Linked DNA regions of Homo sapiens. The protein of the gene in region 2 interacts with the protein of the main gene of each other region in a pairwise test. Each region holds a gene or a part of one and is shown on either strand. Other genes may lie near its edges.

The links.
Region 1: the proteins of NRIP3 (region 2) and NUTF2 interact in binary tests that used the Homo sapiens proteins (3 or more experiments, as listed by UniProt).
Region 3: the proteins of NRIP3 (region 2) and C14orf119 interact in binary tests that used the Homo sapiens proteins (3 or more experiments, as listed by UniProt).

What each region holds. Positions count from the first base shown.
Region 1 is NC_000016.10:67,849,844-67,853,592, reverse strand, and holds part of NUTF2 (nuclear transport factor 2), read right to left. Parts: intron 1-3,749. UniProt on the Homo sapiens protein: Mediates the import of GDP-bound RAN from the cytoplasm into the nucleus which is essential for the function of RAN in cargo receptor-mediated nucleocytoplasmic transport.
Region 2 is NC_000011.10:9,001,860-9,005,608, forward strand, and holds the start of NRIP3 (nuclear receptor-interacting protein 3), read right to left. Parts: upstream 2,143-3,749; 5' UTR 2,077-2,142; coding exon 1,903-2,076; intron 737-1,902; exon of another isoform or gene 56-736; intron 1-55.
Region 3 is NC_000014.9:23,093,694-23,097,442, reverse strand, and holds the start of C14orf119 (uncharacterized protein C14orf119), read right to left. Parts: upstream 1,939-3,749; 5' UTR 1,824-1,938; intron 1,811-1,823; exon of another isoform or gene 1,493-1,810; intron 1-1,492. Other genes in the region: ACIN1 (apoptotic chromatin condensation inducer in the nucleus), read left to right, coding at 2,157-2,468.

The DNA.
Region 1 (3,749 bases), on a different chromosome or scaffold from region 2:
CAAAGTCAGGAGTTCGAGACCAGCCTGGCCAATATGATGAAACCCTGTCTCTACTAAAAATACAAAAATTAGCCAAGCATGGTGGCAGGAGCCAGTAGTCCCAACTACTTGGGAGGCTAAGGCAGGAGAATCTCTTGAACCCAGAAGGTGGAGGATGCTGTGAGCCGAGATCGTGCCACTGCACTCCAGCCTGGGAGACAGAGTGAGACTCCGTCTCAGAAATAATAATAATAATTAGCCAAGCGTGATGGTGCGCACCTGTAGTCCCAGCTACTCAGGAGGCTGAGGTGGGAGGACTGCTTGAGCCCAGGAGGTCAAGGCTGCAGTGACCTGAGATGGCACCAACTGCACTTTAGCAGTGCCACAATCACAGCTCACTGCAGACTTGAACTTCTGGGCTGAAGTGATCCTCTTGCCTCACCTCCCAAGTAGCTGGGACTACAGGCACCCACCACCATACCTGGCTGGTTTCTATTTATTTAATTTATTTTAAAGACAGGGTCTCACTGTTGGTAAAAGAGTGAGACCTTATCTCATTAAAATAAAATAAAATAAAATAAAAAGGCTGCTGATGTACCCTAAGAAAAACTTTAAAAAGAAAGAAAAAAAGGGCCGGGAGCGGTGGCTCATGCCTGTAATCCCAGCACTTTGGGAGGCCAAGGTGGGTGGATCACCTGAGTGAGGTCGGGAGTTCGAGACCAGCCTGACCAACATGGAGAAACCCCATCTCTACTAAAAATACAAAATTAGCCAGGCGTGGTGGCACATGCCTGTAATCCCAGCTACTAGGGAGGCTGAGGCAAGAGAATCGCTAGAACCCAGGAGGCAGAGGTTGCAGTGAGCCGAGATCACGCCATTGCACTCCAGCCTGGGCAATAAGAGCGAAACTCTGTCTCAAAAAATAAAAAAATAAAGAAATAAAATAAAGAAAAAAAGGCCAGGCATGGTGGCTCAAGCTTATAATCCCAGCACTTTGGGAAGCTGAGGTGGGCGGATCGCCTGAGGTCAGGAGTTTGAGACCAGCCTGGCCAACATGGCAAAACCCCATCTCTACTAGAAATATTAAAATTAGCCGGATTATACCGGCAGGCGGGTATAATCCCAGCCACTCGGAAGGTTGACACAGGAGAATTGCTTGAACCCGGAGGGCGGGGGTTGCAGTGAGCCGAGACTGCGACACTGCACTTGAGCCTGGGCAAGAGTGACACTTCACTCCAGCCTGGGTGAAAAAAAAAAAAAAAGAAAAAAAGATAATAGTGTTTTGTTAAGGGAAACCTAGCCTTTTTTTTGGAGACAGGGTCTTGCTAGAGTGTCCCCAGGCTACAGTGCAGTGGCATGATCATAGCTCACGGTTCCTTGACCTCCTGCAGCCTCTTGAGCAGCTGGAACTACAGGTATACAACACCACAACCACACTGGCTATTTTTTTATTTTTCTTTTGTAGAAATGGGTATTGCTATGTTGACAAGGCTAGTTTTGAACTCCTGGCCTCAAGCAATGCTCCAGCTTCAGAGCTGGTGCTGAATCCTAGAATTTTTGATATAAGGTGGCTTCTAGTTATGAATTTTTTTTTTTCAAGATGGAGTTTCGCTGTTGTTGCCCAGGCTGGAGCGCAATGGCACAGTCTCAGCTCACTGCAAGCTCCGCCTCCCAGGTTCAAGCGAGTCTCCTGCCTCAGCCTCCTGAGTAGCTGGGATTACAGGCATGCACCACCACGCTCAGCTAATTTTCATATTTTTAGTAGAGACAGGGTTTTTCCATGTTGGTAAGGCTGGTTTTGAACTCCTGACCTCAAGTAATCCACCCACCTCAGCCTCCCAAAGTGCTGGGATTACAGGCGTGAGCCACTGCGCCCAGACTTGTTCTGAAATTTGAAAATTCTGTGTCTCCAGGGTGGAAACATCACACACCGGGGCCTGTCCTGGGGCGGGGGTAGCGGGGAGGGATAGCATTAGGAGATACACCTAATGTAAATGACGAGTTAATGGGTGCAGCACATCAACATGGCGTTATGTATACATATGTAACAAAACTGCAAGTTGTACACATGTACCCTAGAACTTAAAGTATAATAATAATAAAAAAAACAAAATTCTGGTCTCCCTTGTTTTTTGAGACAGGGTCTCACTCTGTCACCAGGCTGCAGTGCAGTGGCACAATCTTGGCTCACTGCAACGTCCGCCTCCCTGGTTCAAGCGATTCTCCTGCCTCAGCCTCCCAAGTAGCTGGGATTACAGGCACCTGCCACCATGCTCAGCTAATTTTTGTATTTTTAATAGAAACAGAGTTTCACTATATTGGCCAAGCTGGTCTCCAACTCCTAACCTCGTGATCCGCCCACCTCGCCCTCCCAAAGTGCTGGGATTACAGGCATGAGCCACCGCACCCTGCCTATTCTGTGTCTCTCTTAAGTAATTATTCCCCTCCCAAACCACCAACTCCAAAGGCAACGGAATAAAACAAGACATGGCTCAGAGAGAAGAGATGGGCTCGGCCAGGTGCGGTGGCTCACACCTGTAATCCTAGCACTTTGGGCAGCCAAGGCGAGTGGGTCACTTGAGGTCAGGAGTTCAAGACTAGCCTGGCCAATATGGTGAAACCCCATCTCTACTAAGAATACAAAAATTAGCTGGGTGTGGTGGTGGGCACCTGTAATCTCAGCTACTCGGGTGGCTGAGGCAGGAGAATTGCTTGAACCCAGGAGGCGGAGGTTGCAGTGAGCTGAGATTGCACCACTGCACTCCAGCCTGGGCAACAGAGCGAGGCTCTGTCTCAAAAAAAAATAGTGATAGGCAGATAGGCTCCTATACACGAAGGGACATAATTTTGAGCTAATTGAGAACTGAGGCATCTTGTATCCTGCCTCATCCTTGTGCGGCAATATCCCAACCACCGCATGCCAGGTCCCACTTCCAAGTCAGCCCTACATGAATAGAGGATGCAGATAGATCCTGGAGAACCTCAGGCCACTTCTCTTATATCTGAGACCTAGATGGCCCGCCAAGTTCCAGAAACATTTAACGAATTCTCAGGATCAGGATGCCTAGCAATGGCTAGCTGACCTCAGACAAAGAGGTTACAGGGAACGGCCAGGCGCGGTGGCTCACGCCTGTAATCCCAGCACTTTGGGAGGCCAAGGCGGGTGGATCACGAGGTCAGGAGATCGAGACCATCCTGGCTGACATGGTGAAACCCTGTCTCTACTAAAAACACACAAAAAATTAGCCGGGCGTGGTGGCGGGTGCCTATAGTCCCAGCTACTCGGGAGGCTGAGGCAGGAGAATGGCGTGAACCCGGGAGGCGGAGCTTGCAGTGAGCCGAGATCGCGCCACTGCACTCCAGCCTGTGAGACAGAGTACGACTCCATCTCAAAAAAAAAAAAAAGAAGTTACAGGGAACTTCTAGAGGTTGGAATGAGAGGGAGGGACCTGAATTCCTCCTACTCTTGAGTAACGTTGGAGAAGGAAAAGTATCTTTTTGTCCCTGAAGAAAACCCTTGTGATCACTGGGCAATTGTTCACATCTGTAATCCCAGCACTTTGGGAGGCTGAGGTGGGAGTATCGCTTGAACTCAGGAGTTTGAGACCAGCCTGGGCAACATATGGAGATGACATCACTGCAAAAAATAAAAATAAGGCCGGACGTGGTGGCTCACGCCTGGAATCCCGGCACTTTGGGAGGCCGAGACGGGCGGATCACGAGGTCAGGAGATCGAGACCATCCTGGCTAACACGGTGAAACCCCGTCTC
Region 2 (3,749 bases):
ATCAACTCCATGACGGTGGGGCACAGAAAGCGTGAACCATGATTCAGAGCCTTACAGTCAACTGTCATGTGTATGTGTCATACTCAAGGCAATATCCTGCTTCTTGAGGCTCCTTCCTCTTTGCAGCCTGCTGCCTGTGCTGTATGCTATCAGCCCTTTGTGACTCAACTGAGACAGACTAGAGTCAGAAAAGCGGATGGAATTCTTACACAGCATGAAGTAGTATAAGAAATCCTAGGCAGAAGGAAGTTCAGGTAGCTCTCAGGGCTAGGAAACTCCTCGACAACGAGGGACAACCAAATCCAGCATTTAAAAACTCTGTATTTTAATTCTTCTCTTAATATAATACTTCCTTCTTTATTGATTGCTGAGCATTCTAGGAACTAGGATAGGATTATTTGGCCTGAAGGAAAGAATACTTCTCGAACCTGATTTGTTAAATGAATCGAGATTGCTTTAAAGTGAAAGAAGGGAAAAGAGAGTTATCTCTTTTGCAGGAGCACATTTCAATCACTTATCACTCTGGGTTAGCATAAATCAGATAAACTATCCTGTGGGTTGTGCAAAAAGCAAAACAAAACAAAAAAACACAACTTGTAAAAAAAACAGAGCAAGATAACTGAAGTAGACAAACTCTGCACAGAAGTAACTAATGGCAGGGAGGAGAAAAATTTTTGTATATTATATTATACTGTGTATAATATAATGTACCTGTGTATCATTAGAGCTGTTAAATTAAAAAAAAAAAAAAAAAAAAAAGGAAATGGATGCAGAAGCTCTGCCCTCCTGGGGCCAGAAATGGCAATTTCAGTGAACTAGGGCCGACAACCACATCCAAAATTAAATATTTCAAAAGCTTAAAATAAAAAATACTAGAAAAATTATGCAGAGCACCTATTTCATTTGTTAAAAGACATTTAATTAGTGTTTCACATATTACCACCCAAATGAATAAAGCGATTGTGAAATTCAAGAAAACAATCAAACTACAAGAAAACTCCAGATAAAACTACAAAGTTAAACATAAACTTGGCCCAGGACCACTACAGTGGCTGAGGGATGACAAATACAGTTCTTTATATTGGTAACCCTTAGCCATCCATCCCATTCTATAGAAAGAGGACAGTACCATCTTTGACCCCAGGCCCCCTGTCCTGAGGTGCTTCTACTTAATGCCAGGAACAACTGTGCTAGAAAAAAAGACTGCACCCACCCCAGCTCCAGATGCACACATTAGCTGGTCGGTGAGATGCAGCAGCCTGGCTTCCTCCCTCTACCCACTCCTTGGGGGCGGGGCTGGAAGAGGAGAATGATGAAGAGATGTTGGGGGTTCAGGAAACCTTCACATTTGGCCCCTTTTCTCTCTCCCCACTCAGGATGGAAGGTCAAAGTTAGGACCAAAACTAGAGAAGTGGGTTTTGCATAGGGGGACAATGGATTCAACAGAAGTCCTCTGGATCTGGCAACTGTCAAAAAACCCTCTTTCCACTTCTTTCCCCCTCACGGAAAGCCATTAGGAATCACCTCTGTCTGGGTCATAGGAACAGCCACACAGCATAGGAGGCACAAGCCCCGTGAACAAAATTCGGTATTAAGAATAAGGAAAAAGAAAGAAGACCCGAGGGCAAGAGGGCAGGGCAGGACCTCTTCTTTCTACTGGAGAAGAGACATCCAGGGAGGAGGCACAGCCGAGGGGAGCGCAAGCTAGAAAAGCTACGACGGAATCCCCACCGAAACCGCAGCAGGGGTACTGGAAGGGGAGGAATCCGCGACGCAGCGACCGCGAGCCAAGGGCAGCGGCGGGCCGGGCCGTGACTCAGTGAAAGCCGCAACGGCCGGGCCTCGGAAAACGGCGGGCGCGAAGCCGCCGGGGCCGGGGCGAGAACGGCGGCGGGGGCTCACCATGTCCTTGGACGAGCCCAGCTTCTTGAGGCCGTCCAGGGGCAGCAGGTCGGCGGAGTCCTTGTGGATGAACTGCACCGCCTGCTTCATCCGGCGCTGCTGTCGCAGTGACGCCGCCTCCCGCATGTCGGTCTCCTTGCGGCCGCCCTCAGTGAGGAGCCCTGAGTAAAACATCGCTGAGGCGCCGGCGGCCCGGTAGCCCACAGCCCCCCGGCAGCCTCAGCCTCGAGCTCCTCCAGCGCCGCAAGGGCCCCGAGCCGCGCCTTTTATAGCCGAGCGTGACGTCGCGGGGAGCAGCCAGTGCGCGCGCGGGGGGCGGGGCCGGCACAGAGTCCACGCCCCGCGCGGCTCCCTCGCGTCCCGCGTCCCGCGTCCCGCGTCCCCTGCTCACCCGGTGGCAAAGCCGGCGAGGAGGCGGCGGCGCTGGTGGGGACTGACCCGGCAGTCCGAGAATCCACCGCGGCCTTTTCACCCAACCGCCCCCTCCTGCGTGGGGGCCCCGCATCCCCTGGACTGGCGTGGGCTCTGGGGCCCGATGCCCTGGCAGCCCCGGCCATCTCTGCCGCTGGCCGCGGGTACCTGCTCACCTGTCCACGCCGTGGCCGACCCGGGGATCACCGACAGCCGGGCCATGCCTCGAGTCCCGCCGCCCGCGCCGCTGCTCGGCTTCTCAGAAACGCACCTCCACGCCGCCAGCCGGGGCTCCAGGGTCCACCGCCCGGGCCCGGAGGACTGGCGACTCCCTCCGAGGTTGGGAGCGCTCCGGATTTCTCCAACTTCAGGTCGGTCCCCACCCACCGGGCCACGTGACTGGGGAGGGGGCAGCCGGTGCAGGCGTGTGGAGGAGGCTTTCGGGACCTCCTCCCCCGGGCACCCTCTGCCTGCAGCCCGGCACCCGGCCCGCGTTTCCGAGCCGGGGGAGCAGGTGCAGTCGGAAGCCCGCGGGTGGGCGTGGGGCGGGGGAGTGGCGAGGGTCCCCCGCCTCCGCGGGAGCGCACGCGGCTGCGAGCCCTACACCTGCTCTCCGACCAAAGAAGCACCTGTTTTTCTCAATAAGTGCTAGGGCTTACCATCTAAAGGATCGTTCACCATCCCTCCAGCGTCCTTAGTAGGAGCGATTGGAACCCGTTTTTCTTCCTGAATAATCCATACTTTTAAGCCATTCTAATCGGGCCTTCAGGCATCCTGGATTCTGGTCTCGACATTGTGATTTGACACAAATCACGTTTTCACTCTGGAAACCACAACTACTCCCTCCACCCCATCACGCAGGAGCAGACCTGGATAAGAAATATGTGCACTCTGCAAAGAACCAATGATAAAAGTAACAATATCGACGCTTACTGAGCCTTTACTATGTGCCAGGTACTAGACTAGACACTTAAAATGCAGTATCTCATTGGATCCTGGCAACAGCTTGTAAGATAGTATTCTCATCACCCCCATTTTACAGGCAAATACCTGATACCTTCTGTCTGGCCTCCTGAATGCTCCTTGGTTCCATTCCAATACGTTGTTCACTGTGCTGCCAGAGTAATCTTCTCAAACGATAAGTGTGATCATCTCACTTCCCTGCTAAGAGCACCTCAAAAGGCTTCCTATTGCTCTTAGGAGAAACCCACATTCTTGCATGGTCTGCCTAGACCCTGCATATTCACTCTGTACTTCAGCCTCATGGGCCTTCTTCCAGTTCCTTCCAGTCACCTGTTGCCAAATGGCCTGCCTTTGACTGTCCTGTTCCCTCTGTGTGCAGTGCCCCCTCCTACCCTCTTCAGGAAACTCCTATGCTTCTTCCAGACCTCAGCTCCATTATCATTTCTTTAGGAAAGCCTTCTCTGACCTTCCAG
Region 3 (3,749 bases), on a different chromosome or scaffold from region 2:
CCTTTTTCAAACCCATTCTTCCCCACCCACTGTCTTCCTCCATCTTTCTTATAAAGAACCTAAAAATAACCAATATATTTCTTGTTCATTCTCTTCCTCTTACTTCTATGTGCCAGGTTGGGTAAAGAAAAAAACAATGATTAATGTTGGTCCATTACATCTTCTCCAAAATGAAAATGCACACATTTTAAAATCTAGTACGTGCAGCTGGTCAAGGCTGATGCTAATTGTTTTGCAGCTATCAACAGTGGGGGAAGAAAGAAAAAACATTATTTATGATGAAAGAGCCTTCAATGTGCATATAAGCCTCTGAAATATGCCAACAACTCCATAACATCCGTTACCTCCTTACATTTCCTGTAAAGCACCAGGAAAAGTTAAAAAGCAGAGTAAGGACCTTGCTCAAAATAAGGTAACGCATGAAAGAACCAGAAGCCCGGGTGTTTGAGACGTTCTTAAAAAAGAGTCCAGTTGGTTTGTTGGCTTAGAGATCTAACAAGTGTTATACTATTTTATGACAATCCATGTCTTTAAACAATTGTCCTTAATATTTAGTATGGGCCAGACGCGGTGGTTCTTGCACTTCCAAAGTAATCTCAGCACTTTGAGAGGCCGAGGCAAGAGGATCGCTTGAGCCCAGGTGTTCGAGACCAGCCTGGGCAACATGGCAAAACCTCATCCCTACAAAAAATAAAAAAATTAGTTGAGCGTAGAGGTGCCTACCTGTAGTCCTAGCTACGTAGGAGACTGAGGTAGGAGCATCACCTGAGCCCGGGAGGTTGAGGCTGCAGTGAGCCCTGATCGCGCCACTGCACTCCAGCCTGCGTCAGAGTGGAGGGACCCAGAGTGGAGTGACAAAAAAAAAATTTTTTTTTTTTTTTAGTATGGTATCTATTGGTGCCTTGCAATTTTTTTTTTTTTTTTTTTTTTTTTTGAGACGGAGTCTTGCTCTGTCACCCAGGCTGTAGTGCAATGGCGTGATCTCAACCACTGCTTCCTGGGTTCAAGCGATTCTCCTGCCTCAGCCTCCCGAGTAGCTGGGACTATAGGCGTACGCCACCACGCCCGGCTAATTTGTTTGTATTTTTAGTAGAGACGGGGTTTCACCATATTGGCCAGACTGGTCTCCAACTCCTGACCTCAAGTGATCCGCCCGCCTCGGCCTCCCAAAGTGCTGGGATTATAGGCGTAAGCCACCGCGCCCGGCACCTTGCCACTGATTTTGCATCATGAATGCAACGGAAAGATCAGCCAATTTGACTTTAATAGTTTTCAGTCTCTTAAATCTCTAACGTATCTCTTAAATCTCTAAACTATTTGTCTGTGACCTATTTTACTGTTTGTGTTTCTTCTGCATCAAGTTGGAGGATTGGTAGTGACAAAGAAAGAAGCCCCTAAACAATTAATATTAGTTCAAGTACCAAAAAAGTTCAGGGCGCTTGCATTTTCCAGTTCTTGCCCTACAGGAAGCAGTTCCTCCAAGGGAACTTACTCTCTTCTGCGGAGCAAGGAAGAACTTTCCCAGAATCTTGCCACATGGCTTCCAAGGCAAACTCAAACTCAAGTTCAGCGTCATAGATCAGTTCATAGTCTGGGTCCGAAGACACGGCGATGCTTCTTGCGCACCCCCACGGAGCTTGTTATTCCGATTCCGCACCAGCCCCCCGCCCCTCCCCAAAAAAAGCCTAAGATGGGAGTGGCTATGATTCAGAGGACAGAGGGCAGAAGCTGTTTGCGTTAAGGAGTGGGGGGCTTGCCCTATTAAGGTAATCCGCAAACACCGAGTCTGACCCGGCCCATAGAGGTACTTCTACCCCGCTTACCTCCCCTTTTCTCTCGAAGGGCACCCGAAGATTGTCACGAGTCCTTAGACTCCAACTACTGCGGCAGCTTCCAAATTTCCTGAAAACCCTAAGCTGGGCCAGCCCGGCAGCCCACGCACTTCCGGCCTCGGACCCGCCCCAAACACCCAAGCGCCCCAGCGCCTCATCTCTAGGTCCGGAAATAAACGAACATCTCCGATTATGGTTATACCAGGGTCGAGGGTTTCCGAATATATTCGATTCAAAGCTTCGGCAAGACGAAGAAAACCGAGCCTGAAAGCAGGGCGAGAAAAGGGGCGCTGCAGGGCGGATGGAAAGAATTGATTGGTAACGATGTGGAGACGGAAACATCCGAGGACATCCGGAGGAACCCGGGGAGTTCTGAGTGGTAATCGAGGGGTAGAGTATGGCAGTGGGCGGGGTCATCTCGGTACGTTCGAAGGGCGTTGGCGGAAATTACCGAAGATGCCCGAAGCCGTCGGGACGGACCCGAGTACCTCACGCAAGATGGCGGAGCTGGAGGAGGTGACTCTGGACGGGAAGCCTCTTCAGGCGCTGCGGGTGACCGACCTGAAGGCCGCACTGGAGCAGCGAGGCCTAGCCAAGAGCGGGCAGAAGAGTGCCCTGGTCAAGCGGCTCAAAGGGGTGAGGAGTCGGCGTTGCTGGGGTGTCGGAGGAGAGCGGACCCGGTAGAGACGAGCCTCTGCCGCGGCGCAGGCGCAGTATCCGGGCTCGGCGCGAGCTCGCTCAGGCCGCCAGCGCGAGCCTCTGGATCCGCGCGCACGGTGGTTGATGAGGTTCGCGCTGGAATGGAGATCGCGCCGGTTCCCGCCTTAACGGCAGCAGCGCGAGCCCAAATGGGAGGGTGTGCACTACTCTCCAGGAGTGTCTTAAGCTCCTTCCTCCTTCCCCCACCCCCTCCTTGTTTGTATCTGTGGTTTCGGCGCATGCGCTGCAGAAGGAGTTAAATCCCACTACAACCTACGGCGTTGCTGGCCTGAGGGGGGCGAGTTGGGCTGGGTCGGAGTTAGGGGTATAGTTGCGCGAAGGGGTGGATGGGGTTGGTATCGGTATCTGCACGAATAGGACTGGGGTAGGGTAAAATGTCTGCTCGATTAGATGAGGAGGTGAGATGAAGAGAGACCTTTATTTGAAGGGACTTGATGAGAGAGAGGTCTCTAATTTAGTGGCATCTAGTGGCAATTTGGGTGGTTAAGAGTTTGGTGAATATTGGTGAGAGAGGCGAGGCAGGTTGATATATATTGGGGATTTTGAATCGGTTTGAGTAGATTAAGGTGGGATTGTCATGAGGTAGGTGTAGCTCGATTCAAGTGTATAGGTTTGGTTTAAAGAAGGGAAGATGAGGATGTCTTGGTTTTAATTAGAGTTCAACAGGATACGTGGCAGGTAGTGCAGATTAGGTCTGGGTTGGCTCCAGGGTTGAGTTGGCAGACCGTTGCTTATACAGAAGCTGATAGTTTTGTGTGTGTGTGTTTGTGTGTGTGTGTTTGTGTGGATAGACTAGGTTAGACCACAGTTTACAGGGTCTGTGGTCATTTTCTTCTGTAGCTTCCTCTTTGAAAATTTTATAAATTTGATAAATCTAGGTGCCACAGTACTGGAAATTATACAAATTGACCCTGGTACTGGGTAACCCTTTGACCAAGTAATTCCGTCAGGCAAAAACCAGGAGCCCCATGGCTGGTTTGAGTATTTTAAGTAATTTTACATGCATGATCAGATTTAGAAGGGGCACTTGGCGAAAGTGCAGAAGATAATAGGGATTTTAGTACTGGTTCTATTACTGATATTATGACATAGCCAGGTCACTGATTCTGTGTGCCTGCATTTTATATCTGTACATTTAGTAACAGTAACCATGGCTACCTTTATGGGTCTTCTGAAGATGAATGAGAACAGTGTTAG